7 linked regions of the Homo sapiens genome follow. The protein of the gene in region 6 purifies or fractionates together with the protein of the main gene of each other region. This does not show direct contact. Each region holds a gene or a part of one and is shown on either strand. Other genes may lie near its edges. The genes, in order: PRDX4, RPIA, ABCC1, PFAS, PPA1, PAICS and RRM1.

Region 1 (4,247 bases), on a different chromosome or scaffold from region 6:
CCATAAATGGTGGCTGTTACAGAGAAGTATAAGCCTTACTTTCTAGGACCCTTAGCCAAACTTAGAAGCAAGCATTGACTTCAGTGTTTGTAAGGGGTCTGAAAGTATAAGTGCTATCTGAATGTGTTAACAGAGCATGAAGGTGCATTAGTATCTAAGTGTGTTGGCTAAAATTACTGTACGCCCTTACAAGAGAGCAGCATGAACTGTTCAGTTTCCATTGGGTCACTTGAAACCTGTTCAAGGGAGTCTTCTTTCAAAGCCCTCTAGGAAAATGATCCCATGGTCTGGGATTTTACACTTCTGGCCTGACATATTTGTACATTCCCTCCTCATTTTGTGTAGCCTCATCTGCAGCAGGTCCTCCATGTGTATGTCAGAAGCTGGACAAACTAGTACATCTGGAAGACTGCCATTAGAGAAAGGAAAATCTAATTATTTGAAATGTAGGAAGTTGACAACTTGAAGCGGGACTATAGTGAAGTATCCAGGAGGGTTTAGTGCAGGGTAGAATTTAAGGGGTCTGTGAGCATGAATAGGGGAAAAAAGTATTTATTTTCACTAATCCCCATCTGAAATTTAGTGTTTCCTTCTATTATGAATGTCAGCAACAAACTACACTATCTTCAGCAGCACTTGCTTGTACCTTTCACCAATAGAATCACTTATTTTCTTGCTACATATGGTTATCGCAGGTATCCTGAAACACCATTTTCACTCATCATTATCTTACGTAGTTGTCAGATTACAACTAGATCTTGCAGTTTTGAAGTGTTATAGAGCACATGTATTATGATATCACCAATTTTTTTTAATATTTTTATAATTGCATTTAAATACAATTGGTTTCTTTTGTAATTCTATGTATTTTCCTTTTTGCATTCAATAACACTCTTTTAAGAAGTCTGTAAGCTTCACCAGACTGCCAAAGAGATCTAAAGGTAGCCCTGATTTTTAGTGATTTTCTAAAGATGTCCTTCTACCATTCCACCAACTTTCTCAGTGTTACAGAACATCATGTATTTTATTTTCTTAGTTTCCAAGCCAGCGCCCTACTGGGAAGGAACAGCTGTGATCGATGGAGAATTTAAGGAGCTGAAGTTAACTGATTATCGTGGGAAATACTTGGTTTTCTTCTTCTACCCACTTGATTTGTAAGTAATACATGTAAATAGCTAGTAAAATCTCAGTCTTTATCAATTATTTTTCAGGAGTATCAAACAAATTATTTTGTTCAGCTCTTGGTTTTTAAAAAGGCAAGCTGAAGTAAAGAAATGTATTTAAAAAGGTAACATCTACCATATATTTCAGAGTCATAACACACCGACCTCAATACTTATGTCTACATGATTATGTTATAATGGAATAATTAGAGGAAAGCTACAATATATTCATTAAGCTATACCTACTAAGGCAAGAAAATGGACTGATAATATATTAGAAAGCATTTAATAGCAAGACCTATGCCATAATTCTTTTTACTGTATCTCTCTTGATTAGAAAATTAATTCTGTAATCCCAGCACTTTGGGAGGCCAAGGCAGGTGGATTACAAGGTCAAGAGATCGAGACCATCCTGGCCAACATGGTAAAACCCCATCTCTACTAAAAATGCAAAAATTAGCTGGGCGTGGTGGTACGCGCCTGTAGTCCCAGCTACTCGGGAGGCTGAGGCAGGAGAATTGCTTGAACCCTGGAGGCGGAGGTTGCAGTAAGCTGAGATAGTGCCACTGCACTCCAGCCTGGCGACAGCGAGACTCCATCTCAAAAAGAAAAGAAAAAGAAAATTAAGCCATTTTCTCTAGTGATACCATGTAACTGTGGTTTTTCCATTTTTATTCTTTGCTGCATCTGTTGCTTTTCTGGGATTTGAACATTTTGCTGAAAATATTATATACTGCTTAAGGAATAAGGAATAACACCTGTGTATATGTTATGGTTATTGTGGGGTTTCTCGTCTTTTTTTAACTCTGTGACAGTGAGCGTTTTTGTATATGGTCAGAAAGTTGACTAAAAGTAAATACCCTTACAGCTTTATTCACGTTGAGGATTTAATTTTATTTTACAAAACACTATTTTGAGTGTTTTTCAAAATTCATGAAAGTGAGAAGAGACCAAAAAGAGTTATGTCAATTTTTATCTTTTATTCTCTTGGAACTTACTTTTTGGTTACAACAAATAACTAGAAGTTTCCTCCTCTATCTTTGCCACTGTGCCTTTTTCCATTAGGACTAATCTGGAACTACATAGATCAAATTTAAACTTGCAGGGAGGGTATACTTAAGCTCATTGCTATAGGTTGTTTCTAGGCCAGGGATTAACAAATTTTTTCTGCTGGATTTGGCCTATTGACCTATTTGCCAACCCCTGCTCTAAGCCACAAAGGAAGAATTCTCATGAAAATTATTACATTGAGACTAAAGTTATGAGTCTGCATAATATATAATCTTTTAAATTATAAGAACTTGCTTCTTTCTAATCAACTCATATTGTGACTTGATTTTTTTAAGTATAGCTTAATTTCTAATAGAAACCAGAAGTAGAAATTTCAGTAGACATAAAAAATGACAGGCCTTCTAAATTCATGTTGTTATAAAACCAGAAGGTTAACATGTATGTTAAATATATACGACTAACACCCTGAATTTGGAAGTTAGTCTAATGTAGCAGAAAAATATGTTCTGTGTTTCTCCATTGTTATTCATAACTCCATAATGGGTAAGAGATAGTTAATTGGAGCATGTTGTTAGCAATGGTCTTCTGGGACAAGGAGCTAAGATAGCCTCTTCCTGTTTTCATGTAATGCTGGACTGTGCCTGGTTAGAGAAGGAAGAATTCTGGGGCATTTGCCACAGTCTACAAGGAGGAAAGTTACAAACGTAACCCTTCAGTTTCCTGCCAAAACTTTTTCTGTCTTCACTAAGAAGTTGGTCAAATGTATCTCTAGGTAGCATTCCTTGAAATAAGAAGAAAGGCAGAGGCTGGGTGCAGTGGCTCACGCCTGTAATCCCAGCACTTTGGGAGGCCAACATGGGCGGATCACCTGAGGTCAGGAGTTCTAGACCAGCCTGGCCAACAAGGTGAAACCCCGTCTCTACTGAAAATACAAACAAAATTACCCGGGCGTGGTGGTGGGCGTTTGTAGTCCCAGTTACTCAGCAGGCTGAGGCAGGAGAATTGCTTGAACCCGGGAGGCGGAGGTTGCAGTGAGCTGAGATCGCGCCACTGCACTCCAGCCTGGGTGACAGAGTGAGACCCTGCCACAAAAAAAAAAAAAAAGGAAGGCTGAGGCTGACCATTCCTACCCTTTAGAAAATATTAAAAATACATTTTATAGCCCAGGTTTCCAGGGACATCATCCGAGATTAGAACTGTCTACTTGGACATGACAGTGCTGTACCTGAATACCTGAAACATGTTAAAATCCTGTATTGGTATCTGGTAGGAACTTGTGCCCTAACTAAGTCTATGTTTTTCAAACTTTCTTGACCATGTCTCACAGTAGGAAATACATTTTTCGTTGTCAGCCAGTACACAGGCACATATATATACGGTAACATTCCATCTGGATGCACCAGCACAGCCATGCTCCTTAAAATACTGAAAAACCCTCATATCATGTGGTAAATAGCCACTTCCCTTTCCTCACCAACTAGTTAGTCCTCCTGCCTGATCCCTTTCAGAAACCTCCAGAACTAAAGCCAGCTTTGAGTTAAGATTGTTAAATATTTTGAATATCATCACTGTTGAAGACAAACATATATATTTGTATATATAAATATGTGTTTCATAATTTACCCTTAGTATGTATGATAGAGTCTCCTGTTTTCTATTCGATTTCACTTTTTAAAAATATTTTTTAGAACTCAGTTAATTTAAGGAGTCCCTACCACGGTTTGAAAAAATGCCACCCTAGTAATATTCTGTAAACATGGCCTGACAACATGAGGGTATTAAGGTATAAAATCCCTGGCTGCACAGGACTGGTAGACAAGGTGGAAGAGGACCTTATCAAGAAAGGAGGGGTGGGGGTACTGGAAAACATTGCCTCCTCTCCAAAATACACATAGATGCATCTAATTCATAGGGTTGGTATAGGAATATTAAAAAAAAAATAGTGAAATGACATAAAATTTGTATAGATCCTTTGAAAGCTATAAAATACTATATAAATAAAAGGTATTATTAAATAAAAGTAATAAAATGAGGGGTGGCTATTGCTATAAGGGAGAAGGGAACATTGGTTGA
Region 2 (3,500 bases), on a different chromosome or scaffold from region 6:
TCTCCCTGACAGCTTACATTCCAAGTCATTCCATACCATACCGCTCCACTCCACAGTTTTATAAACCTGATCTTAAGATGTAACTAGGTACTATGTGTGCTCACAATAAAAACTAACTAAAAACAAATCAGAGGGTAGCAGACAAGTAAACAAAGTTTCCAGTAAGGCATCAGGAGATCACTGCTGGTGGGCCCCTCACTTTACCAGCTTAAAGAAGTTTTGATTTTTATTTCTCAGCAAACTCAATATTCAGAAGCTTTACCAGCAGACTCAAGTCAAAGGTTTTAAATACAGTTTACCTCATTTTTTTTTTTTGGTAAATATTTCATATAAAACATGAACTCAAGTTCTACTTCATTTAAAAAACTGAATATTTTAATAGTAAAAATATATGTTTATATTTCTCTTTTTAAAAAGACATTTAATAACAATACTTCATAAGACTGGATTTAACTCCCCCTCCCACTCTTCCCCCCACCCCCCACCACAAGTTGTCCAGGCAGAGATACATTAAGGCAAAGGCTCCTGGAGAGGTACGTCCACCTTGGCTGTGGGCTGGAGACTCAAGGTGAACACACTCTGCTCCTTGCAGGGTCAACAGAAAGGCTTCTCCCTCATGTTCACTGAGCCATCCTGCATCCCAAAGTAGACTCTCTCAGCCATGTTGATGAATAGGCCTGTGTCCACCACACCTGCAGGACAAAGGACAGAAAGAAACATTGTTTCAGCCTCCCAAAGCAAAAAGAGACTCAAAGACTGCAGGGTCACTAGAAGCAACTGTCATACACAGCATTGGACGAATGACAAATCTAAAGCCTTTTTCTCCCACAGAGCAATGAAAAGAGATTCTGATTATCTTAATTTCTTCTTGCCACCTCTTTCTCCCCTCCCACTTTGGCCTTCTTTCTGTACCCAAACATGCTAAGCTTTGTCCTGCCCTGAGGCCTTTGTTCATGCTGTTCCCTCTGCCTGAGCCAGTCATTGTCAAGCACTTCAAGGGGCTGGCTCAGCTCTGTCCTTCAGACATATCAGATGGCAAGTCATCCTCTAGAGACCCTCCATGACTACTCCAGCCAAGGAGCCCCACTACCAGTTATTTTCAATCATACCACCAGCCTTGAAAGATTTCCTCGGAATGGGAGGAGATATTTGCAAAGCATATACCTGACAAAGGACTCATATCAAAAATATAAACAATTTATAAATCATCAAGAAAAAGACAGAATCCCCATAGAAAAATGGGCAAAAGACTTGAAGAAGTACCTCACAAAAGAAGCTACCCAAAATGGCCAATAAACATTTTAAAAGATGCTCAAAATCATTCACTGAAAGGAAATACAAATTAATATTACAAGATATCACTACACACACACTGAAGTCAGTGTAATGAAATTCTGCTGGGATGCAAAGACACTCATACGCATTGATGGTGAAAGCTGAGCTGGCAAAAGCACTTTGGAAATGTTCATCTTCCAAGCTGATGGATTCACACCTAACCACTCAGCAATTCTACTCCTAGATATACAACTGTTAGGCATACATTTGGTCATCAAAAGACATGTGTAAGATGTTGATAGTGGCACTTTTCCTATTAGCTAAAAACTGATAATACCCAAATGTCCATCAAGAGTAGAATAGAGGCTGGGTATGGTGGCTCATGCCTATAATCCCAGCACTTTGGGAATGAAGCCCAGGAGTTCAATGGAGCTCCAGATGGAGCTGATGGAGCCCAGGAGTTCGAGACCAGCCTGGGAAACATAACATAGAGATGGCAGCTCTACAAAAAATACAAAAATTAGCCAAGCATGCTGGCACATGCCTGCAGTCCCAGCTACTCAGGAGGCTGAGGTGGGAGAATCGCCTGAGCCCAGGAGCAGAGGTTGCAGTGAGCCATGATTATGCCACTGTACTACAGCCTGGGTGACAGAGCAAGATCCTGTCTCCAAAAAAAGAAAGAAAGAGAAAAAACTAAAAGAGTAGAATAGATATAAACTTTTTTTCACACACATACAGATGATGGAATATGATTCAGCAGTGAAAATTAACAACTACACACAACCTTTACCAAGAATATTTACATATACTCACACATACTTCAATGACATAACACTTTAACTGTAAGAGAAAAGGTATAATGGACCAGGTATGCAGGGAAACAGATACCTGCACACACTGTTGGTAGAAGGCTAAGTGAATACAAGCTACAGACGGCAATCTGAAACCATCTAACAAAAATCACAGACACATTAATCCTTTCATCCAGTGATTCCCTGCTAGCAAAAATCTGCAAACATAAATGACCACTAGTGGTGATCCAGTTAAGTCATAATGTTACATAGGTAAAGTGGAATACATGCAGGTATTCAGAAAAAAAAGGAACAAGGAAGCTCTTTTATAAGCCAATGTGTAATAATCTCCAAGACAGGCAAGGCAGGAAACAGAACATGTATAAAGCAGGCTACCGCTAGTGTAAAAAGGGGTGGGGCGGGAGGAGTTGCAATTTGTGTGTTTATGAAAGTCTATCTCAAAGGCCACACAATTTTGGTAACACTGGCTGCCTCCAGATAGGGTAACTAGTTGGTTGGAAAAGTGGCAAAGAGGACTTGCCACTGTTTAACTCATAATTTTAAACTACACAAATTCAAAAGGATAAATACAATGAAAACTTGCAGGAAAATGGCAATAGAAGACAGGATTAATGTGCAGCACCCACTTGGACAGACAGAACAGTGTGTGGAGACACACATTGTGAACTTTTGCTCCAAGAACCACCACAGGAACATACCAGGAAAACCAAAAGAATTCACAGACCCTTTGAAAGAAGTGGCTTGCTGCTGCAAACTCCATAAGACAGCCAAAAAACTGTGAGTTCCCAAAGTGTGAGAGGGGGAAAAGTCTGCCTCTGAACATACATCCCCACCGGGGAACCTGAAAAATCCAGATCACAGGAGACGGATTTAATCTTACCTAGAGCTGAAATGGATTTAGAGAGCTGAGCAAACTATAAAAGTAGAAGCAGCAGCAGGAAGAGCCCTGTAGACACTTCCAGTCCCCAGCTTGAGCCCAGGGAAGCCATCCCTGGCTTTATCTCACAGGGGTCCTTCGGGAAAAAAAGGCAGCCAGCAGAACTGGGGAGGGGCCACAGGATGAAGGAAGCTTCTAGCTGAACTTCGTAATAATTTCAACTGAGCACAAATTTTCCTGAGCAGAATCCGGTGGGGGACAAATGGGAAGTGCAGATACAAATGAAGAACCCACAGCCGAAGGTGCAGGCAGGCAGGGAGGGGCGAGGCCTGAGAGGCCTGCTTGCTTTCTCAGTAGGGAGGCCTGTAGTCTGGGGCAAGATCTCAGCCCTGCTCACCATGGTGGGGCATGGCGGGAGTGAAACTGGCCTTGCTGGCTGTGTGGCAGCTGGGTGGGGGTCTGTCACTGCCGGCTTTCTCCTACTTCCCTGGCAGCCTGTATGACGCAGAAGAGGCAGCCATAATCCCCCTGGGAAC
Region 3 (4,747 bases), on a different chromosome or scaffold from region 6:
ACTGAATTCAATCTAACTGAACGCTTTAACTGGGTGAATTCCATGGCATGTGAAATTCACATGTCAATGAGGCTATTATAAAAACTAATGAAATAAGTTAGCTGGGCGGGGTGGTGGGTACTTGTAATCCCAGCTAATTGGGAGGCTGAGGCAGGAGAATCACTTGAACCCAGGAGGTGGAGGTTGCAGTGAGCTGAGATCGTGCCACTGCATTCCAGCCTGGGCAAAAAAAAAGCCAAATTCCATCTAAAAAAAAAAAAAAAAAAAACCTAATGAAATACCTTGTAAGTGAATTAAATTCAGTGTCAAGTTGGAAGCCGCCGGTGTAATACACCCTTGGTTCCTCACGGGGGCACTCACGCCATTCTTACAATGCTCACCCGTGACATGGGACCTGGTTCACCCAGTCAGAATGTTAAAGGAGTGGGCCGAGGTCACCTCTGTGAATTCCTCAGGAGGACAGACCTTACAGAGGCCTTGGTCTCACTCCCAAGGGGCATCTCTCCTCAGGAGGCCGGGTAGCATGACTCCCATGGCACTGGATAGGGTCTCTGAGGAGGCACAGGCTCAACGCCTAGGTCTGCCATTTACCAGCCATGTGATCTTGGGCAAGTAACTTCAGCTTTTTGTCTCAGTTTCCTCACCTGTAAAATGGGGGTAATAGTAGCATCTAAATTATAGGGCTGGGCTGGGCATGGTGGCTCCCGCTTGTAATCCCAGCACTTTGGGAGGCCAAGGCAGGCAGATCACTAGAGCTCAGGAGATCAAGATGAGTCTGGGCAAAATCCCGTCTCTACTAAAAATACAAAAATCAGTCCGGTGTGATGGCATATGCCCGTGGTCCCAGACACTCAGGAGGCAGAGGTAGGAGAATCACTTGAGCCTGGGAGGCAGCGAATGAGATCGCACTACACTCCAACCCGGGCAAGAGTGAGACCGTGTCTCAAAAATCAGTCATAGAGCGGGGTAAAGACTGAGTGCATTACTCTATATTAAACGTTTAAGTCTGGGCCTGACATTCTACAAGGCACTATGTGTGTCCCTGTTATCATTAATGTAGGGTGGGGGTGTCGCCAGGCATTATTGTGATTATCTATTATCACTGCTGTTCCTACTTGTGCTGCTGTTCAGGGCCTAAGAAGGCAGTTATTAAGGGCAACGCAACATCAAAGACTGGAGGCACGGGTCCTAGTCCCAGCTGTTCTACCAAGCCACGTGGGACCTTGGATCAGCTGTTGTCCCTCCCCAGGTTCCCTTTTTCTCCATCTATAAAAAGGGGACTGGGGTTCAATAACGGCAGGGTTTCCCAAACTTTGGTCAGTTCCCAGCTACATCATTCGTGTAGTATGCATGTACTCATTCTCTTGTTGTTTTAATATGCTTAATCAAGTCACTTAGACTTAATTTCTCAACTTACTTAAGAGGAAAATTTATTACAATCACAAAAGGAAAAGTAGTATTATTTTCCGTAACAGGAGTCCCCTATACAAATACATAACAGGCCAGGCGCAGTGGCTCACGCCTGTAATCCCAGCACTTTGGGAGGCTGAGGCAGGCGGATCACCTGAGGTCAAGAGTTTGAGACCAGACTGGCCAACTTAGTGAAACCCCCATCTCTACTAAAAATACAAAAATTAGCCAGGCATGATGACAGGCACCTGTAATCCCAACTATTTGGGAGGCTGAGGCAGGAGAATTACTTGAACCTGGGAGGAGGAGGTTGCAGTGAGCCGAGATTGTGCCACTGCACTCCAGCCTGGGTGACAGTGAGACTCCATCACACACACAAAAAAACCAAATTCATAACAAATAACAGAAGGTTATTTCTGATAGACAGAATCCGTCCTGTTGAAGACTCCAAGTGTGAGGGCTGCTGTTTATCTGTCTGTTGAAGGGAGATCATCTCAATTGCTAAGGTGTTAAAGACCTGCTAGCCCCAGACTAAGACTTTCTCTGTGATACCATCAGAAGTTATGAAAGAGAAATAGAGGGGGAAACTTCTTCACAATGTGAATACCTTCTGAATGCCCTGACAGCATCCCACAGTCTCGTATATGGATACCCCAGATCTTGGGTAAAGCCGGTAAACTATTTTCACCCTAAAACCGGGCTCTAAATAAGTGCTGCAAAAAGACTGGACAAGCGTTAAGATGCACTTCTACCTGGTGAGGTATCCAGCTCAGAGGCAGAGGTGCACAGGATAGGGTCCAGAGATCTCCTTGGGGTAAAGCTACACCAAAGACCAAGAGGTCCAGCCAGGGGCCCTTGCCTACCTCCTTCTCAGTCTCTGAATACTCCTTGAGCCTCTCCACGGCCACGATGTTGGTTTCCATTTCAGATGACATCCGAACCAGCCAGTTCAAGTACGTGGTGACCTGTGAGTGGAAGAGTCACGTGGCATTTCTAGAGTAAGCGGGCGTACTTGACTTTCCTTTTTCTTTTTTTCCACTGAGATAATAGGAAACAAATTATTTTCAACAAGTATGAATTATGGGAGGCTGAGGCGGTCAGATCACCTGAGGTCAGGGGTTTGAGACCAGCCTGGCCGATGTGGCGAAACCCCATCAGTCACTACTAAAAATATAAAAATTAGCCAGGCATGGTGACGCACACCTGTAAACCCAGCTATTTGGGAGGCTGAGGCAGAAGAATCACTTGAACCCAGGAGGCAGAGGTTGCAGTGAGCCGAGATCCCACCACTGCATTCCAGCCTGGGTGACAGAGTGAGATTCCGTCTCCAAAAAAAATAAATAAATAAAAATAAAAGGTTATGAGTTATGAAACATTCAGGTAAGAAAGGTACCGAAATTAGCAACCCCAGGTATAGCCATCACCCAGGCCTGCCACATTGCCATCTCCTAAGCACACACATTTCCAAAATAACTCATGGGCCACATAATAAGAAACTGGAAAATATTTTTAGCCAGGTGACAATATGAAAACACAATGTATCATCATTTGTGAGATGCAGCTAAAGCAGTTCTTAGAGGGAAATTCATAGCTTTAAAAGCATTCCCCTCGTACCTGGAAGTATCCTCTTGGGCCACTAAGGAATCTGTGTGACTGATGGGGAAAATCCTGGCCACATGTCAAATCCGTCTCCTGCTCTAGTTGGTCACCAGGCACTGTGGCACTGTACCTGCTCCTCAAACTCCGTACCTCTCAAGTTCCTCTCCCCCATTCCTGTTGGAGCTGGAATCCAAAGCCAAGGACAACTGGCTCCCCCATTAACAGACTTTAATAATCCAGCCAAGAGCATCCCCTCTTACCTGCAATGAGTAAGACACTGAGAGGCCCACCAAGCCAGCACTGAGGCTGTGCCTGGAGATCACCGCAAACAGGGCAGCAAACAGAACGATGCAGTTGCCCACACACTCCAGCCGCACGGCCAGCCACCTGCGCCAAGACACACAGGCAGACAAACAGGCATGGAGTCAGCTCTACAGAGACTTGGCTTACAGCTCTTGGGGGAGGAAGGGGATTCTTTGCTAACTCAAGTAACTCCGCAGTAATTCCAGAGAGAGTCCTTCCTGGCACTGCTTTTTCAAAACATGCACAATGGGCGCAGGGTAGGGAGGGCCGAAGGCACGAGGCCAGTAAATCCTCATTAATCTGGCAAACCCATGGATTAAAACAGAGCTCTCCAGAGGCAATCTTCCCTGGAATCTGAAGCTTGCCTTTTTAAGAACCAACTTTTTTCTCATTGAAGCCTTTAAAATACATACACATAGGCCGGGCGTAGTGGGTCACTCCTATAATCACACACACACACATACACACACACACACACACACACACACACACACAGCCGGGCGTAGTGGGTCACTCCTATAATCACACACACACACACACACACACACACACACACAGTGCATTAACAACAACAAAAAGATGTCCTGGAAATTCCTAAATACTAAGAAGACATCAACTGTAAGAGACACTAGGGATTTAAAATAACCATCGTTTCTCGGCCTTTTGGCTAAAAACAAGTAGAAAATAACAGTCTCTTGTTACGAGACAGATCTGGGAGGGGAGTGCGTAACTAGTACGAGTAAACATCATTGTAACGTTCCCAAGCCCAGACTCTTCATTTCAAAGTGTTAAAATATACTATTTTACCCTTTAAAATAGAAACAGAAATCATGTTTTCTGTCATTTTGTTTTTTTGAGATGGGGTCTTACTCTGCCATCCAGGCTGGAGTGTGGATGACATGATCACAGCTCACTGCCGCCTCAACCTTCCAAGTTCCAGTGATCCTCCTGCCTCAGCCTGAGTAGCTGCGACTACAGGCCCATGCCACCACACCTGGCAAATTTTTGGTTTTTTGTTTTGTTTTTAGAGACAGGGTCTCCCTAGAGTGCCCAGGCTGGTCTCGAACTGCTGGGCTCAAGTGACCCGCCTGCCTTGGCCACCCAAAGTGCTGAGATTACAGGTGTCAACCAATGTGCCTGGTCATCTTATTTGTTTAAAGCTAGGTTTAGTATGGTATCATGTACCATCAGAACTATTTTATTTTACTTTTTATTTTATTCTTCTCTTCTCTTCTATTATTTCTTCAGATAGAGTTTCGCTCTCGTTGCCCAGGCTGGAGTGCAATGGTGCGGTCTTGGCTCACTGCAACCTCTGCCTCTTGGGTTCAAGTGATTCTCCTGCCTCAGCCTCCCAAGTACAGGCACCCACCATCATGCCCGGCTAATTTTTTTGTATTTTTAATATAGATGGGATTTTGCCATGTTGACCAGGCTG
Region 4 (3,596 bases), on a different chromosome or scaffold from region 6:
TATTATTTATATATATTATTTATATATTATTAAAATATATTATTTATATATATTATTTATATATTATTAAAATATGTATATTTTTAAATATATATATATATATATATGTATTTTTTGAGACGGAGTTTCACCCTTGTTGCCCAGGCTGGAGTGCAATGGCGCAATCTTGGCTCACCGCAACCTCCACCTCCTGGGTTCAAGCGATTTTCCTGCCTCATCCTCCCAAGTAGCTGGGATTACAGGCATGCAAAAATACAAAAATTAGCCAGGCGTGCTGGCGGGCGCCTGTAATCCCAGCTACTTGGGAGGCTGAGGCAGGAGAATCGCTTGAACCCAGGAGGCAGAGGTTGTAGTGAGCCGAGATCATGCCACTGTACTCCAGCCTGGGTGACAGAATGAGATTCCATCTCAAAAAAAAAAAAAAAAGAAAGAAGGAAAGGAAGGAAGGAGGGAGGGAGGGAAAAGGAAGAAAGAAAAAAGAAAAGAAACAGAGCAGTTATGCCCCTTCATTCCCAATTCCCTTTTTTGAGGTCCTCCATGTCTCACCCTGACTTCCCTATTCCCTGCTAGGGTGGGCAGCTGCTGTGACCTTTCATCCCAGGGCTGGGGCTGAGCTGAGGCGCTTCCGGAAGCGGCCAGACACCTTCAGCCTGGGCGTGTGTAATGGCTGTCAACTGCTGGCTCTGCTCGGCTGGGTGGGAGGCGACCCCAATGAGGATGCTGCAGAGATGGGCCCTGACTCCCAGCCAGCCCGGCCAGGCCTTCTGCTACGCCACAACCTGTCTGGGCGCTACGAGTCTCGCTGGGCCAGCGTGCGTGTGGGGCCTGGGCCAGCCCTGATGCTGCGAGGGATGGAGGGCGCCGTGCTGCCCGTGTGGAGTGCGCACGGGGAAGGTCAGGCCCAAGGAAGGCTGGGGGAGGGCCCGAGGGTTGGGGGCAAGGGTGGGCATGAAGGACCTTGGCTCTCACTTCCCTCCTCCTTCCATCCCAGGTTACGTAGCATTTTCTTCTCCGGAACTCCAAGCTCAGATTGAGGCCAGGGGCTTGGCTCCACTGCACTGGGCTGATGATGACGGGAACCCCACAGAGCAGTACCCTCTGAATCCCAATGGGTCCCCAGGGGGCGTGGCTGGCATCTGCTCCTGTGATGGCCGCCACCTGGCTGTCATGCCTCACCCTGAGCGGGCCGTTAGGCCTTGGCAGTGGGCATGGCGACCCCCTCCATTTGATACTCTGACCACCTCCCCCTGGCTCCAGCTCTTTATCAATGCCCGAAACTGGACCCTGGAAGGGAGCTGCTGACTGGCCACAGGGGCTCACCTGGGCCCCATGGCTTTTCACCTAAGTGGGTCCTGCCCCCTCCCCCATGACCTTCAGGAGCACCCCATATTATTTCCAAAAATATCTTGGACAGACAAGGACCAAAATGCCAAAATCTCAGCGGACTCGATAATCTGCCTGCTGATGTTCCTTCTGTGGCTGTGTCTATTTTCAGTTCTGCTCTAACATGGCATGCCCTTTCTCAGCCCAGGAAACAGCATGTGGTTCAGAGAAAAGAGCGACAAGGAAAAGTTAGGACTCCTGAGGTCCGAACAGGGGCTTCTGTTGCCCACTTCACAACACCCAGTGATCACCGGTGTGCAATTGCCTCCTTGGCTCTGAGGGATGTTTTGCGCTCCCTTTTCTCATCATTGGGGTTAGCGGGTGCAGACAAATTCAGCAATAGTATGCAGATCAGCCCCTCACCACCTCATTGTTCTCATCTGGAACTGAAACTTTCTGGATTTCTCTTGAAGTGCTACACTGCACTGAATGTAAGGAATTGTTGCTTGTGGAAGTTTCTCAGCGTTTCTGGCTGTCTTAGGGCTGGCCTCAGAACCCAGCATTCCTGTTATTTGCTTCTAAATTAGCAGCTCTCTTTTTTTTTTTTTTTTTGAGGCAGTCTCACTCTGTCACCCAGGCTGGAGTACAATGGCGTGATCTCGGCCCACTGCAACCTCTGCCTCCTGGGTTCAAGCAATTTTCCTGCCTCAGCCTCCCGAGTAGCTGGGAGTACAGGCACACACCACCACACCCAGCTAATTTTTGTATTTTTAGTAGAGATAGGGTTTCACCATGTCTCCCAGGCTGGTCTCAAACTCCTAACCTCAAGTGATTCGCCTGCCTCGGCCTCCCAAAGTGCTGGGATTACAGGTGGGAGCCACTACAGCTGGCCCAGCAGCTCTGTTTCTGATAGAGGTGGTTGGGGCTCTCATCCCTAGATCCTAACCCTTTAGTATGCTGGAATTCTACTCTTCACTTACTGCATTGACTGTTGTTGATTAGTTATTATTGCAAAGCACTGTCACCGGCCTCAGGGAGTTTATGTGTAATAGAATTAAAAATAATAGCTGTGTATAACACTTAGCTCAAGCCACGCATGTGTGAGGCATTTGGTATGTATCTGAATTAATTCTCACTAAAATTCAGCAAAGGACTTGATAGCCCCTCCCCGCCTTTTCAATAAAGGATGAATGAAGGTTGACTGCATTGCCTGGGGTCCACAGATGGTGAGGGGGGCTGGGCGCACCCATACTACATCTGCTTCCCGCCATCCTGCAGTCTTACTTCCTGGAGGCAGTGTGTTGAGACTTTGTGCTGGCAGCTGTCTGTTGCTTCCTTTGCTCACAGGACTGTGGATAGAGGTCCCTTCCTCATGACTGTTCTGTTGTACACCTCAAGTCAGTTGGCTCCCTAGAATGTTCAACATCTTGATAAAAGGAGTTTGCCTGAGAATGGAGACTATAATCCCAGATCCCTGAGGGCTAGGAGAGCTGGGTGGGGGCGCTGAGCACTTCTGTGTGCTCCTGGTAGAGTAGCCACCCTGAGAAAAAACTGATAATAATGAAACAATGTTAAATGATGGCTATGGGGAAAACAACTATTTCAGAGATTTTTCTCATTGCTTTGCAAAGCGACCTACCCTGAGCAGTATGGGACTCCTCCGGATCATTTTTGACATTTGAATGTTCTTTCCTGACCCTTGGAAAGGATATATGTATGTCTTTCAAATTTATAGTATCGAACATACAATTTGGGGGCTGGTACCAAGGGTTAGATATTAAGTTTATTAAGTGCTTGATGCAAAAGTCAAAGGATGGCATGGGAGGTAACCTGGTTGGCTGTGATAAGTAAACTCGTGGATTTTGAAGGGGGAGCAGTTTCTGGTTTGGGTCGCAGTGGCCAAGTAAGACCCACCCTCCTCAGACACTATCAAGACCAAGTCCACTGGCTTTTCATCCGTGTTTTCATCCAGTAACCAAATAACCCTGTCCTTGCTGACCCCCACCCAGCTCCATTCCCACTCACCCACTCCCAAGGGCCCTCTGGTGAACCTTCCAGGCTAGCTCTCTGCTCCCTCCTTGCCTTCATGGAAAACCAGCTATCCTCTGAGAGCCACTTCTGCAGCCCCTCCAAGTGGTGGCTTTTCTTCTCAAACCTCAACCTCACATATCTCATCTTCCCCAGGCTGGGGAGTCGGGGTCCTCGTACCACTGCCAGACTGTTCACCCAGTTCAAAGAAAACCCTGCCCGTTGCAGGCTCATGCCATTCTACT
Region 5 (4,747 bases), on a different chromosome or scaffold from region 6:
AAAACTGTCTTCTAGAGTGTGGTTCTGTAATGTTGTCCTGACTTTGGCTATTGACTCTCAGGTATGTGCAAGAGGTGAAATAATTGGCGTGAAAGTTCTAGGCATATTGGCTATGATTGACGAAGGGGAAACCGACTGGAAAGTCATTGCCATTAATGTGGATGATCCTGATGCAGCCAATTATAATGGTAAGAAAATTTGAAAAGTCTGAAGTCTTTCTAATTAATTCATAAGCACCACCATACTTAACCTATAATGACAGAATTGTAAGCCCTTACCTTCAAACTGTTAAAGGATGGAGGAACAAAGCACTGGACAAGCATTATTTCTATGACTGCACTTGTAATTAACTAAGTAAACTTTCTCCTTCATTCCAGGAAAGAAAAAATCTGGTAGGTTCTTACTGTTTTTTTGGTCCTTTCCTTCCCCACATACCAGCACTCAGTTGGTATGTTTATTTATTTTAAAACATTTAATTGAGATATTCACATATCAAAGAGTCACCATTGTAAAATGTACAATTCAGTGGTTTTTAGTATATTCACTAAGTTGTACAACCATCACCACTCTCTAATTGCAGAACATTTCATCAGCCCAGAGGAAATCCTGTATCCATGGGCAATCACTCCCTGTCCCCCTTCCCTCAGTCCCTGATGACTGCAGATCTACTTTGTGCCTATGGATTTGCCTATGCTGTTATTTCATGTAAATGGCATCATATAGGTGGCCTCTGTGTCTGGTTTATTTCACTTAGCGAAGTAAGTGTCTTCAGGATTCATCCGTATTGTAGTATGTATCAGCACTTCATTCCCTTTTTTTTTTTTTTTGGTGGTAAATTTTACATAACATAAAATTCACCATTTTAATTAAAGTGTGAAATTCAGTGGCATTTCATTCATTCACAAGGTTGTGCAGCCATCACCACTAGTTCAAGTCATTCCCTATTCCCTCCTCCTCTCCAGGCCCTGGCAGCCACTAATCTGCTTTTTGTCTTTATAGCTTTGCCTATTCTACCTATTCTAGGTATCTCATATACATGGACTGGTACAATATATGGATCTTTGTTGTTGCTGTTTCTGGTTTCTTTCACTTAGTATAATGTTTTCTAGGTTTATCCATATTGCATATTGTGGCATCTGTCAGTACTCCTTTTTATGGTTGAATATTATTCCATTGTGTGGATATACTACATTTTGTTTATCCATTCATCAGTTGATGGACATTTGGGTTGTTTTGGCTGTGTAATGCTGCCATGAACATTCCTGTACAAGTTTTTGTGTGGACTTATGTTTTTATTATTGGGTACATACATAGGAGTTGCCAAAGCTAGAACACTTTGAGCAAGAAAATAAAGTAGTATTGTAATATAACCTGGAACATAAAATAAATCTCCATGAGTCTATACTGACAAATAAATGATTGAATAAATAGACAAATGAGGAAGAATAGACAAATCTCAAAGCAGAAGAATTCCAAATAATTTATGCAGATACTCCATTCTCAAGGAGGTCCTTAATTGTGAGTTGTGCCTGGTGACTTCCTTCCAAAGAGTACAGTGTGGGTAAGGGAGAGGAGAGGATGACTTTAGAGCAGAGAAACTTGACAAACACTGCCTCAGCCAGGTGATGGAGGTCAATGTCAGCAGTGATAAGAGTCACCTTGAGAGCATGTTCCCTCAAAATGATGTGATGTATATTTGCATCTGTGTTAATTCATTGAAGAAGGACTGGAAGAATGCCAATCCTTTAATGTTTCGTTTCAATTTTGAAAGGTGAGAGTGCATTCACACCATCTGTTCACTACTTGGTAGTACGGCTCTGTTCTGTTGGTCCGTGTGTGCATTTCCAACGTGCTTCTTATGCAAGAGAACTTGGCATGCTGTGGCCACAATTAGTGAAGCCAAGCCCATCACTCTGTCAGCACTCATTTACTAAGGCTTTATTTTCCTGCAGTTCAGGTTATTAGAACCCTGAAAACTTTCTCGGGGTGGCTGGTCCCATGGCGCAAGTAGTATGCAGCTTTCCCTAATGTCAACCTAAGGCAGTGTCTATTGTCCATCCTATAGCTTGCCCCTGTGCATCTCTTCCATTTGCTGTCCCTGAGTTGTATTTATATAACGAAATTTAAACTTCAGTGTTTTCCTGAGTTCTGTGAACCATTTTAGCAAATTAGGGGACCTGGGGAGAGGATTGTAGAAACCCCTAATTTATAGCTGATAGTCAAAAGTACAGGAGGCATCTGAAGTGGGGCAGTCTTGTGAGACTGAGCCCCTAACCTTTGAGATCTGATGCTAACTCCAGGTAGATAGTATCAGAATCACAGTGAATTACTGAGCACTCAGTTGGTGTCTGAATAATTGGAGAATTAGTTTCTGTTATTGGAAAACATCAACATTTGCATGTTGGATTTCTGGATTTCCAAATTATTTCTATATCAGGTGACACATTTCATGTAAATTATAAGTTCTTTGAAATTTACTAGTGCTTAAACATTTCCCAGTGCATTCTGTAAAGTTTCCATACTTTTAGTGATATTATGATAATAGAATGCATGCTATTCTTTATGCAGATTATAAATTGGATTGAAGCGGCCGGGCGCGGTGGCTCACGCCTGTAATCCCAGCACTTTGGGAGGCCGAGGCAGGCGAATCATGAGGTCAGGAGATCGAGACCGTCCTAGCTAACACGAAACCCCATCTCTACTAAAAATACAAAAAAATTAGCCAGGCATGGTGGTGGGCACCTGTAGTCCCAGTTACTCAGGAGGCTGAGGCAGGAGAATGGCGTGAACCCGGGAGGCAGAGCTTGCAGTGAGCCGAGATTGCGCCACTGCACTCCAGCCTGGGAGACAGAGCGAGACTCCTTCTCAAAAAAAAAAAATAAATTGGAGTGAAGCAATGTTATCTTATACAAATATAAATAAGCTTTTGTTATTGTTGAATGTATTTCTCTTCCTCATAATACTTTTCCTAACTGACTTTTTAGGATGTGTATCTCTGTTTGCTTGCATTGAGCAGGAGTTTGTTATTTGAAGTGCAGTTTGATAACATTGAGGCTAGCCATTGTTGATGGCTATACAGAAACTTAAAATTTTTAAAGCAGTGCACTTTTCTGTCAGCCAGAACTAAAGTATTGTTATGTACAGTGCCTGTACTATCCAGCAAAGTCTAGTCACATTTAATACGTAACCCATCAATGGATATCAATCTAATCTATTTTTCTTATCTTTTAGTATGTAATAGTGTTGTGATCCTCTGACATAGCCTCTGCCTCTGGACCAGGGATAGTACCTCAAGCCTGTAATCCCAGTGCTTTGGGAAGCCAAGGCAGGAGGATTGCTTGAGCCCAGGAGTTTGAGACCAGCCTGGGCAACATGACGAGACCCCATTTCTACAAAAAATTTAAAAATTAGCTGGGCGTGTGCATGCTTATAGTCCCAGCTACTCAGGAGGCTGAGGTGAGAGGATCGCTGAACTGTGGAGGTCAAGGCTGCAGTGAGCCTTGTTCGGGCCACTGCATTCCAGCGTGGGTGACAGAGCGAGACCTTGTCTCTGAAAAAAAAAAAAAGATAACCTCTGTCTTTTTCAGTATCTTGTACACTTCTCATAGGAATTATCTACATTTGCCAAACTGGTTGTTTCATTATGTAGCCACCAGCTGTTTGCCCTTACCTAACAGAGATTACTATTGTACTGATTGTTCTCTGTACTTAGTGTCAGAGCTATTCAGAGATACTAGATGATTTTCTTTCAATGTATATGTGTATGGCTTCTCTTCTCAACAAGGGGCTTCGCTCCAATGTTATCTTGAACTTCCGTGATAAGTCATTCCACAGCTCTTTCAAAATAAGTACTTGGAATTTTTGTTGAGTGTATAATTATTTGTGCATCTTGAAATCTGCTTATTCTCTTCTTTCTTTTTAAAAAAATCATTCTCACTGTCATCTTATGCTTCTTCTCTTCTTAGATATCAATGATGTCAAACGGCTGAAACCTGGCTACTTAGAAGCTACTGTGGACTGGTTTAGAAGGTATAAGGTTCCTGATGGAAAACCAGAAAATGAGTTTGCGTTTAATGCAGAATTTAAAGATAAGGTAATATGTCATTCAGAACTGTAGCTTTAGGCTCATTTGTATTGAGACTCATAATTTAACCATATTGTTACCATCTAAAGATTCACAAAACAGAAGTCTGGAAACATAACACAGTCTTGGTGTTTATTTATTCACTTTAATATTCTCTTCCATTTTTAGAATAAGGAAATGATTCAGAAGAGACAAAGTATCAGGCTTTGGGGAAATGTTGATAATAGGAAAATAATACCTTTTTATCATTGTAATGCAAACCTCTTCAAATTATAGGACTTTGCCATTGATATTATTAAAAGCACTCATGACCATTGGAAAGCATTAGTGACTAAGAAAACGAATGGAAAAGGAATCAGTTGGTAAGTGTAAACACTTTGCATGTTTAACACACAAAGCAGACCAGCTTGCAGAAAAGGTTTTAATAATCATAAGACACTGTACTGTTACTTTCACTTAGAAAAGAGATACAAGGCTGGGTGCGGTGGCTCACACCTGTCATTCCAGCACTTTGGGAAGCCAAGGTGGATGGATTGCTTGAGCCCAGGAGTTGAAGACCAGCCTGGACAACATGGAAAAACCCTGTCTCTACAAAAAGTACAAAAATTAGCTGGGCATGGTGGTACATACCTGTAGTCCTAGCTACCTGGGAGGCTGAGTTGG
Region 6 (4,747 bases):
TAATAACATTGTCACAACAGTAACAGCAAGTATTATCTTTGTTTGGCTAAATGAAAACTAAGGGTCTTAAGAGGATGGGTATCTTCACAATTACTAGAGTCAGGGACAGATCTGGGACTCTATTCCAAGTCTCCTGCATGTTACCAGGCCACATTTCTGCTCCTATATAAAACAACAGACACTTCTCAAAAGAAGACATTTATGCAGCCAACAAACATGAAAAAAAGCTCATCATCACTGATCATTAGAGAAATGCAAACCTAAACCACAATGAGATACCATCTCACACCAGTCAGAATGGCTGTTTTAAAAAAGTCAGGAAACAACAGATGCTGGAGAGGCTATGAAGAAATAGGAACGCTTTTACACTGTTGGTGGGAATGCAAATTAGTTCAGCCATTGTGGAAGACAGTGTGGTGATTCCTCAAGGATCTAGAACCAGAAATACCATTTGACCCAGCAATCCCATTACTGGGTATATACCCAAAGGAATATAAATCATTCTACTGTAAAGACACGTGCACAGGAGCAGCACTATTTACAATAGCAAAGACATGGAACCAACCCAAATGCCCATCAGTGTTAGACTGGATAAAGAAAATGTGATATACACACACCATGGAATACTATGCAGCCATAAAAAAGAATGAGATTGGCCAGGCGCGGTGGCTCACACCTATAATCCCAGCACTTTGGGAGGCCAAGGCAGGTGGATGACAAGGTCAGGAGTTCAAGACCAGGCCAAGATAGTGAAACCTTGTCTCAAAAAAAAAAAAAAAAAAAAATTAGCCAGGCATGGTGGTGGGCACCTGTAATCCCAGCTTCTCGGAAGGCTGAGGCAGAGAATTGTTTGAACCCGGGAGGTGGAGGTTGCAGTGAGCCGAGATTGTGCCACTGCACTCCAACCTGGTTGACAGAGCGAGACTCTGTCTCCAAAAAAAAAAAAAGAAAGAAAAAGAATGAGATCATGTCCTTTGCAGGGAAATGGATTCAGCTAGAAGCCATCATCCTCAGCAAACTAACACAGGAACGGAAAACCAAACACCACATGTTCTCACTCATAAGTGGGAGTTGAACACTGAAAACACATGGACACAGGGAGGGGAACAACACACACCGGGGCCTGTTGCAGGGTGGGGAGCAAGGGGAGGGAGAGCATTAGGAGAAATACCTAATGCATATGGGGCTTAAAACCTAGATGACAGGTTGATGGGTGCAGCAAACTACCATGGCACATGTATACCTATGTAACAAACCTGCACATTCTGCACATGTATTTAAAATAAAAAATAACAGAAAACAAAATTAGAGCAAGACCCTTTCTATACTTAATATATAAAAATTCTCAAGGCAGTTAATTGTAGTTGCTAGTACAGAAAACACTTAACCTTAAGTGAAAATAAAAGTATACTTTACTATGGAACTTTGTTAGTTTAATTCAGGAAGTGAAAAGATGCATTTTCAGAAGTATCCCTTGCTATACAAACTCTTCATAATCCCTCCCCAAAACTCAGAAACCAAATAGTTTCAGGTAGCAAGAGATACTTGTTTTCTAAACTTTCTATCTTATTTTCTAGTCTTATCGGGACCTCAAAGAAGTAACTCCTGAAGGGCTCCAAATGGTAAAGAAAAACTTTGAGTGGGTTGCAGAGAGAGTAGAGGTAAACCTTCTATAGTAAAACTGTATGTATTATGTGTTTTTCTTCTAAGAAAATCTTGTTTCAAAAGAAAAAAAAATGGGAGAGTATAGTGCTTTTCTTTTCAGTGACTTTGTTTTTTGTTGTTGTTTTTTTTGAGACGGAGTCTTGCTCTGTCGCCCAGGCTGGAGTGCAGTGGCGCCATCTCAGCTCACTGCAAGCTCCGCCTCCCGGGTTCACGCCATTCTCCTAGCTCAGCCTCCCGAGTAGCTGGGACTACAGGCGCTGGCCACCACGCCCAGCTAATTTTTTGTATTTTTAGTAGAGACGGGGTTTCACCGTGTTAGCCAGGATGGTCTTGATCTCCTGACCTCGTGATCCCCCTGCCTCGGCCTCCCAAAGTGCCGGGATTACAGGCGTGAGCCACCACGCCCAGCTCTTCAGTGACTTTGAAAGTGAGGAACACTTTTAGGAAATGTATCAGCTGGGCTATCCTTACTAGGATACTGGAACTCCGTGCTGTTAAGCTGGCCAATACATACCTCCCAGATCCTGTTGGGGAAACCTGGAATCTGTCTCCTCCCTACCCCGTAGGAGAAACCTTATATTTCCTACTCACCTGCACTGCTAGTCAGAGTTCCATTAGCATGGGATGGATGGAACTCTGTGTGACTTTAAATATTCCTTTAAGTTTTATGGTATTACTATAATTCTGGGAGTTGAATGGGGTTTGTGATTATGCAAGGGTCATAATCACATTTGAGAACATTATTCTTATAGGAATATATATTTTGAGTTACAAGCAATTAACTTACAAAGACTTAGAACATGACTTCTGATTTGGCTAATCATACCTTAAAGCTTCCATTAAACAAAGTGCACTAAAGGTCTTAGGATGAAATATTTTGTATTATAATTTCCTGAAAATTAAAAGATTTTGAGTATCTTTACTGTTTATTTTAAATAATTTGTCTGATAAAAATTGAATTCTTTAGGTCTTGATGAAGACCACTTTCCTTTATATATTGAGATTTTTAAAAATAAATCCTGTCTTTTTGTTGTTTGTCTCTGTCTTAAATTTGATCTGTTAAGAAAGAAAATATTGGGCCCAGATATAATTTTACTACAAACTCTAGCTCATTTATTCATTTTTGTTTTTATGTTCTTTTCATATCCACGTATTTTTTCTTCAGTTGCTTTTGAAATCAGAAAGTCAGTGCAGGGTTGTAGTGTTGATGGGCTCTACTTCTGATCTTGGTCACTGTGAAAAAATCAAGAAGGCCTGTGGAAATTTTGGCATTCCATGTGAACTTCGAGTAACATCTGCGCATAAAGGACCAGATGAAACTCTGAGGATTAAAGCTGAGTATGAAGGTAAACCACAAGTAATATGGACATTTCAGGTATTTCTGATTTTGCTAAAAGTAATTACACACTTTAGACTAATAATGCTGAAAAAAGAGCTTTGTCAGTTTTCTAAGGGAAAAACACATGATATACTAGGCTTTCTTTTTTTTTGAGATGGAGTCTCACTCTGTCGCCCAGGCTGGAGTACAGTGGCGCCATCTCAGCTCACTGCAAGCTCCACCTCCCGGGTTCACACCATTCTCCTGCCTCAGCCTCCCAAGTAGCTGGGACTACAGGCGCCCACCACCATGCCCGGCTAATTTTTTGTATTTTTAATAGAGACGGGGTTTCACTGTGTTAGCCAGGATGGTCTTGACCTGATCTCATGATCCGCCTGCCTTGGCCTCCCAAAGTGCTGGGATTACAGGCATGAGCCACCACGCCTGGCCGCTAGGCTTTCTTAATACTCACCTCCAAAGAGCTTAAGGTATTCTAGAAGCTTAGAAAAGAAAGGAGCAGGGAGAAATAATTAAAAATGCAAGTATGAAAAGAAAACAAAGACTAGAATGATGAGAACCTCTGGCATCCTTACCTGGTAAGAAGCCCCTGGAGCATTGCTTCTAATATACTCCAATAGAAAATAGGCCCCCACAGTTACAGGAGGCGGGAGGTTAAAATAGCCGGTTCTCCCGGGAATCTTTAGTTGCCACCCTTTCCTGGGAGGCAGTCAGATAGGAAATTAAAGAACAGTTTCAGAATATAGTACATAAAAAATAATGGTATAGCAGTGATCTAAAATAATGGAGCCCTGGGTTTACAACCAAATGTTTCTCAACTGGAAAAAAATGTTGATTATTTCGTGTACAGGTTGTTGCTATGGAAGTGTAGTTACTAATTTTGGGGGAGTGGGAGGTTGGGGGAACTCAGACTCCTTTGATAGCTAATGAATTCTAGAACTCTTTTCAGAAAATTGCAAATACATACAATTTTGGATTCTAGGTTAACAAATCTCTGCTTTAGGAAACAGGAGGATAATTTATAAATTTATCAAAGAATGAATTGCTTAAGAGATTATGTTAAAAAATGTATCAAAGGGCCTTAAAATTTGGGGGACACTATATTAATTAAACTTTCCTTCAACTCTTGTTTGAAGACGTGTCCCTAAACCCCTAGTTTATATTAACTGGTTCTCCCTGCACCAGTTGAGGGACCACCCAGTCAAGAAAGACACCTGTTCAGATGGTGTCATTCTTCACTTTGGCCAGCCTATACAGCAATAGAAGAGGCCTATGAGCTATTCCCTCACTGACACCCTGCTATCCCCTTTATAATGTAGATCTCAAAAACAACCAAACCGATTCCAGCTACTTTATTACTTGACTTATAGTAAGTGGCAGAGTAACCTTATGTTTTGAATATATGTGTAATAATAGTATCTTTTATGTTTTTTCAGAGAAGACTATTCAAGGACCTCAAGTAATTAAAACATATAGGCCTTAAACCAAAAAAAAAAAAAAACCCTGTCTTTAAATCTGTTTTGAATGTTTAGCATAATTATACTCTTGTCATTTCCCTAGGGGATGGCATTCCTACTGTATTTGTGGCAGTGGCAGGCAGAAGTAATGGTTTGGGACCAGTGATGTCTGGGAACACTGCATATCCAGTTATCAGCTGTCCTCCCCTCACACCAGACTGGGGAGTTCAGGATGTGTGGTCTTCTCTTCGACTACCCAGTGGTAAGATACATTGAATTTTTAAAAACT
Region 7 (4,747 bases), on a different chromosome or scaffold from region 6:
TGAAGGCACTGAAGAAAGTAACATTTTTAGTGTTAAAAAAAGAGAATGTGTCAGCCACACCCTTTTATGAATGTTAGAGTTTTCTGGTTTGTAGATATGACATGGGATAATCAGTTTTCTTAGCCTGCTTCTGATCAATATGACTACATGGAATTTTGTCCAGGAAAATCTCTGGAGCTTGTATTCCTCATAGAGGTTGATTAGAAGACAGCATTTGTTGGGATGTGGGGACATGGCAGCTAGTCATTTGTGGGTTTTTTTTTTTTTTGGTCATAGTTTTAACTTGCTGTAGAATAAATTTGAGTTGTGTATTCCTTAGATTCTTCAGTATGATATGTGGAATGTTACTCCTACAGACCTATGGGACTGGAAGGTTCTCAAGGAGAAGATTGCAAAGTAAGTGAAAAGATGTAAAGTAGCTTTGAAGGCAGAAGGGTTTAGGTTCACCTTCTGGATCTTCAGAAGTTAGATATGTCATTTTAACTTCTTAAACTCATTTATTACAAATGGGGCTAAAATGGCCTATCTCACAAAACTATTTTGGGAAAAAACTTCGTAAGATAATATATATAGTAACCTGGAAGTTGCTTGGCACAATGAAAGCATTTCAGTACCTGGTAGGAATTACTATTATTAGTTGATCTTATTTTAGGGACTTAACACACCTAGATTAGGTAATTTTCTTTCTCATTAAGGCTTTTTTCCAACTATGATTTTTTTTTTTAAATGTTTTTCATTCTTATTTATTTCCCAATTTAGTTACATCGGGCATATAAATGGCTTTTGTTTGAATTGATTGTCATAGGAATAATGGATTTTGGAAGAGTTTTTGGAGGGTAATGTGTTTAGACTATATGAAAAAAAAATTTTTAAATTGAGTTTTTGTAGGCCTTTCAAACTAATAAGCATAAGGGATTCGAAGGCAGACAGAATGTTTTGCAGAGTGAATAACAAAGCAAATTGTTTTTGTTTTCTATCGTGATGACTTTGTCATTTATGGGTTAATGCATATGCAAAGTGATTAATATTTGGAGAATGAAGCAGTAGCTTTAAAATGCTCTTTAAAAAAAATAACCGTTTGCCTTAAAATTGTTAAATTAAAATTGTTTTCCTACTCAAATAATACATGTTAGAAAATTTAGGAAAACATAGATTTGGAAAGAGAAAATGAAAATTATACTAATACTGCCTCCCCCAGAAAACCTGTGTGCATCTTAGTGTCTGTCATCCTTTAGGTTTTCTTCCAAGAGTACACATACATGTGTATTTACATGGAAATTCAACTTTTAAGAAAATGGACCTGTACTGTATTTATATATATATATATATATATTTTTTTTTTTTTTTTTTCCCCTCAAAATACTATGGCTTAGTTTTTTATATACATGACTTTTTTTCTAATTTCAAAATTAGTATATGAACACAAATTTATTATTAATAAAGCTCAAATACAGAAATAAAATAGAAAGTAAAAGCCCTTCTTCATACTTCTGCCAACCATTTGTCTCAGAAAACAAACCAAAAAAGTAACTTATTCTTTTTCCCAGAGATAAGACTTGTTAATGGTGTGTATTTTTCTAGATCTTTTTCAGTACATTTGCAGATAGGTACACATACACGGTTTTGTCATATAAATGTGATCAAACTTGATGTATTCTGGGCTGGGCACCATGACTCACGTCTGTAATCCCAGCACTTTGAGAGGCTGAGGTGGGTGGATCACTTGAGGTCAGGAGTTCAAGACCAGCTTGGGCAACATGGCGAAACTTAGTCTCTACTAAAAATACAAAAATTAGCTGGGCGTGGTGGTGCATGCCTGTAATCCCAGCTACTTGGGAGGCTGAGACATGAGAATCACTTGAACCTAGGAGGTGGAGATTACAGGGAGCCGAGATCATGCCACTGTACTCCAGCCTAGGTAACTGTGACTCTGTCTCAAAAAAAAGACTTGATGTATTCTGAGACTTGTTATTTAGTGATTTATTTTGGAGCTCTTTCTCTTTTAGTACCTGTAGGTCTACCTAATGTTTTTAATTATTATAGACAATTCCATAGTTTGAATATATCATATATGTAGGACTTTTCACAACATTTACCTGTCTGTAGACAGATGATGTTGCTATTTTACAGATGAGGAAGTAAAGACATGAAGATAGTTGGTGGTTTGCTTGATACCTCACTACAAAGTGACAGAGTAAGGTGGAGAACCACCCCCCAAAAAAAGTAAATAAAAAAATAATAATAACTAAAAAGTAGAGAACCCAGTTGTATTAGTCGATTCTCACACAGTTATAAAGAACTGCCTGAGACTGGGTAATTTAAAAAGGAAAGAGGTTTAATTGACTCACAGTTCCGCAGGGTTGGGGAGGCCTCAGGAAACTTACAATCATAGCAGAAGGGGAGGCAAACAGGTCCTTCTTTAATACGGCGGCAAGCAAAGTGCTGAGTAAAGGGAGAAAAGCCCCTTATAAAACCAGATCTTGTGAGAACTCACTATCTCATGAGAACAGCATGAGGGTAACCTCCTCTGTGATTAAATTACCTCCCGCCAGGTCCCTCCCGTAACGTGGGGATTATGGGAACTACAGTTCAAGATGAGATTTGGGTGGGGACACAGCCAAACTATATCCAGTTGTACAGACTCCGTCAGGATATGAGGCTGTATGCTAAGCACTGTATGAATCCATAGGTATAGAATGTAGGAAAGACAGGCTCTTTGTGTTTTAAAAACTTGAGACTAAGAAAACAAGTAGTTAAGGTATACGGAAAGGTACAGGTCAGAGAAAATGTTTGCAGAGTAGATATTTGTATTTGACATTTGTATTTGTGCCTGCCTGATGAGGAAAGATGTTTTAAAATTGCTATCAATTAGGCTGAGCTTTGAAGGTGAGCCAGGGGCAGTTGGGAGATTTCTCAGTGTGTCAGATAGTGTATTTTCTCTTATTAGTCAAAAGATGTTAACCTTCTTGCAGGAACTTATAATTGAAGAATATACTTTGAGCATAATTTCTTCCTCTTTACAGGATAATGGAGAATTGTGGTGATATTTCTCTGATTCTGAACACTTTCTCATCATTATTTTTCCAGAAGGGGCCTAGCACAATGATTTTATAGGCACTTGGAAAAGAGTGAGGGTTGGATGAGTGTAACCTAATACAGGTGGGGAGCGCTTCAACAGTGATTTGAATATTTCCCTACGCAAGATAGTGTATCAAGTGTTATGATTCCTGAGTGCCACAGTCCAAGTGGCATAAATCATGGTATGATAAGGATAGCCAACAATAAAAATTGTACTAATTCAGTTTAGGAGTCAGGCATTTAAGAGGAGAGTGGGCTATAATAGCACCCATACTGTGGAATTGCCTCCCTGTAGGAGTTTAATTTGAAAGTCAACGTGTGAGTTCAATGCATGTACGATGTTACATTTACATTTACTACATTTATCTACATTTACTACAGTGACTTAAAGTAGCTGCTTTCCTGGCAGATTGTAGCTTTGGGACTAGTACCTGATAATCTCCTTTTCTTTAGGTATGGTATAAGAAACAGTTTACTTATTGCCCCGATGCCTACAGCTTCCACTGCTCAGATCCTGGGGAATAATGAGTCCATTGAACCTTACACCAGCAACATCTATACTCGCAGAGTCTTGTCAGGAGAATTTCAGGTGAGCAGTTCACAACCAGCCTTACAGGGAGATCTTTCAAAAGCCTGATGTTGGGAGTAAATGCTCACTCATGTTTAATTTGCCCATTTTCTTAGTTTGGGTGCAAACTTTGATAAAGACAGTCATCTTCATCTCTAATATTATTATTTGTTATTAATATTTCAGCACAATAGGCATTTAATAAATAATCTGTTGAAAGAATGAGTGAATGAGGGTCGAGTATGAAAGTAAGTTGTTGATAGTTAAACATGATGTTTAACCATTATGTAATCATAGTGATATATTCTATAACTTCTCCCAGATGCTTAAGTTAGGATACTCAAAATGTATAAAGAAGTATCATTTAAGGCAGTGGTTCTCAGACTTGGTTACCAATTAGAATTTATGGTGGGTGAGACCAGTGGTTTTTTCTTTGTTTTTAAGGTTCCCAGGTAATTCTTATGTGTAGCTAGGGTTGAGAACCTCAATTTAAAAGACTATTTGTGAATTTCCAGATATCTTGAAGTAAAGTTCTGTAAAGTTCGAGAAGGATACGTTTCCAATTTTTTTAACCTAAGTATTTATAGATTTACCCATCTTAGGCGCTATTCTTTTCACTTTTGCAAACGCCATATGTTTCTTTTTTAATGAAAATATTTTTTCAGCTTTATTAAGGTATAATTGACAATAAAAATTGTGTATAAAACCAAGGTATACAGTGTAATGATTAGATATGTGTATATATTATATAACGATTACCACACCACAATGTTTTTGTTGTCGATACTGTTTTTGAGAAAATGTCTCACTTTGTCACCCAGGCTGGAGTGCAGTGGCATGATCTTGGCTCACTGCAGCCTCTGCCTCCTGGGTTCAAGCAATTCTCATGCCTCAGCCTCCTGAGTAGCTGGGATTACAGGCATGCTGCGCCACCATGCCTGGCTAATTATATTGTTTCTTGAATAACAGATGTCAAGATCTTAAAGGAATATAGCTTTCGTGTGGTGGCATTGATGTCTCGTCTTTATAAAAGATAGAATTTACCAAGCAATCTAGCATTAAATAACTCTTAAGTGATTTTAGTTTAAGCTTCAAAGCTGT

Evidence for each region.
Region 1: the proteins of PAICS (region 6) and PRDX4 fractionate together in Homo sapiens (co-fractionation; one large-scale study listed by BioGRID). This does not show direct contact.
Region 2: the proteins of PAICS (region 6) and RPIA fractionate together in Homo sapiens (co-fractionation; one large-scale study listed by BioGRID). This does not show direct contact.
Region 3: the proteins of PAICS (region 6) and ABCC1 fractionate together in Homo sapiens (co-fractionation; one large-scale study listed by BioGRID). This does not show direct contact.
Region 4: the proteins of PAICS (region 6) and PFAS fractionate together in Homo sapiens (co-fractionation; one large-scale study listed by BioGRID). This does not show direct contact.
Region 5: the proteins of PAICS (region 6) and PPA1 fractionate together in Homo sapiens (co-fractionation; one large-scale study listed by BioGRID). This does not show direct contact.
Region 7: the proteins of PAICS (region 6) and RRM1 fractionate together in Homo sapiens (co-fractionation; one large-scale study listed by BioGRID). This does not show direct contact.

What each region holds. Positions count from the first base shown.
Region 1 is NC_000023.11:23,670,493-23,674,739, forward strand, and holds part of PRDX4 (peroxiredoxin-4 precursor), read left to right. Parts: intron 1-1,036; coding exon 1,037-1,154; intron 1,155-4,247. UniProt on the Homo sapiens protein: Thiol-specific peroxidase that catalyzes the reduction of hydrogen peroxide and organic hydroperoxides to water and alcohols, respectively.
Region 2 is NC_000002.12:88,747,173-88,750,672, reverse strand, and holds part of RPIA (ribose-5-phosphate isomerase), read right to left. Parts: intron 693-3,500; coding exon 595-692; 3' UTR 1-594. UniProt on the Homo sapiens protein: Catalyzes the reversible conversion of ribose-5-phosphate to ribulose 5-phosphate and participates in the first step of the non-oxidative branch of the pentose phosphate pathway.
Region 3 is NC_000016.10:16,123,438-16,128,184, reverse strand, and holds part of ABCC1 (multidrug resistance-associated protein 1), read right to left. Parts: intron 3,397-4,747; coding exon 3,270-3,396; intron 2,376-3,269; coding exon 2,274-2,375; intron 1-2,273.
Region 4 is NC_000017.11:8,267,963-8,271,558, forward strand, and holds the end of PFAS (phosphoribosylformylglycinamidine synthase), read left to right. Parts: intron 1-570; coding exon 571-894; intron 895-991; coding exon 992-1,302; 3' UTR 1,303-2,524; downstream 2,525-3,596. UniProt on the Homo sapiens protein: Phosphoribosylformylglycinamidine synthase involved in the purines biosynthetic pathway. Catalyzes the ATP-dependent conversion of formylglycinamide ribonucleotide (FGAR) and glutamine to yield formylglycinamidine ribonucleotide (FGAM) and glutamate.
Region 5 is NC_000010.11:70,208,904-70,213,650, reverse strand, and holds part of PPA1 (inorganic pyrophosphatase), read left to right. Parts: intron 1-61; coding exon 62-188; intron 189-3,965; coding exon 3,966-4,093; intron 4,094-4,360; coding exon 4,361-4,446; intron 4,447-4,747.
Region 6 is NC_000004.12:56,449,042-56,453,788, forward strand, and holds part of PAICS (bifunctional phosphoribosylaminoimidazole carboxylase/phosphoribosylaminoimidazole succinocarboxamide synthetase), read left to right. Parts: intron 1-1,577; coding exon 1,578-1,661; intron 1,662-2,830; coding exon 2,831-3,011; intron 3,012-4,561; coding exon 4,562-4,720; intron 4,721-4,747. UniProt on the Homo sapiens protein: Bifunctional phosphoribosylaminoimidazole carboxylase and phosphoribosylaminoimidazole succinocarboxamide synthetase catalyzing two reactions of the de novo purine biosynthetic pathway.
Region 7 is NC_000011.10:4,128,755-4,133,501, forward strand, and holds part of RRM1 (ribonucleoside-diphosphate reductase large subunit), read left to right. Parts: intron 1-319; coding exon 320-396; intron 397-3,531; coding exon 3,532-3,667; intron 3,668-4,747. UniProt on the Homo sapiens protein: Provides the precursors necessary for DNA synthesis. Catalyzes the biosynthesis of deoxyribonucleotides from the corresponding ribonucleotides.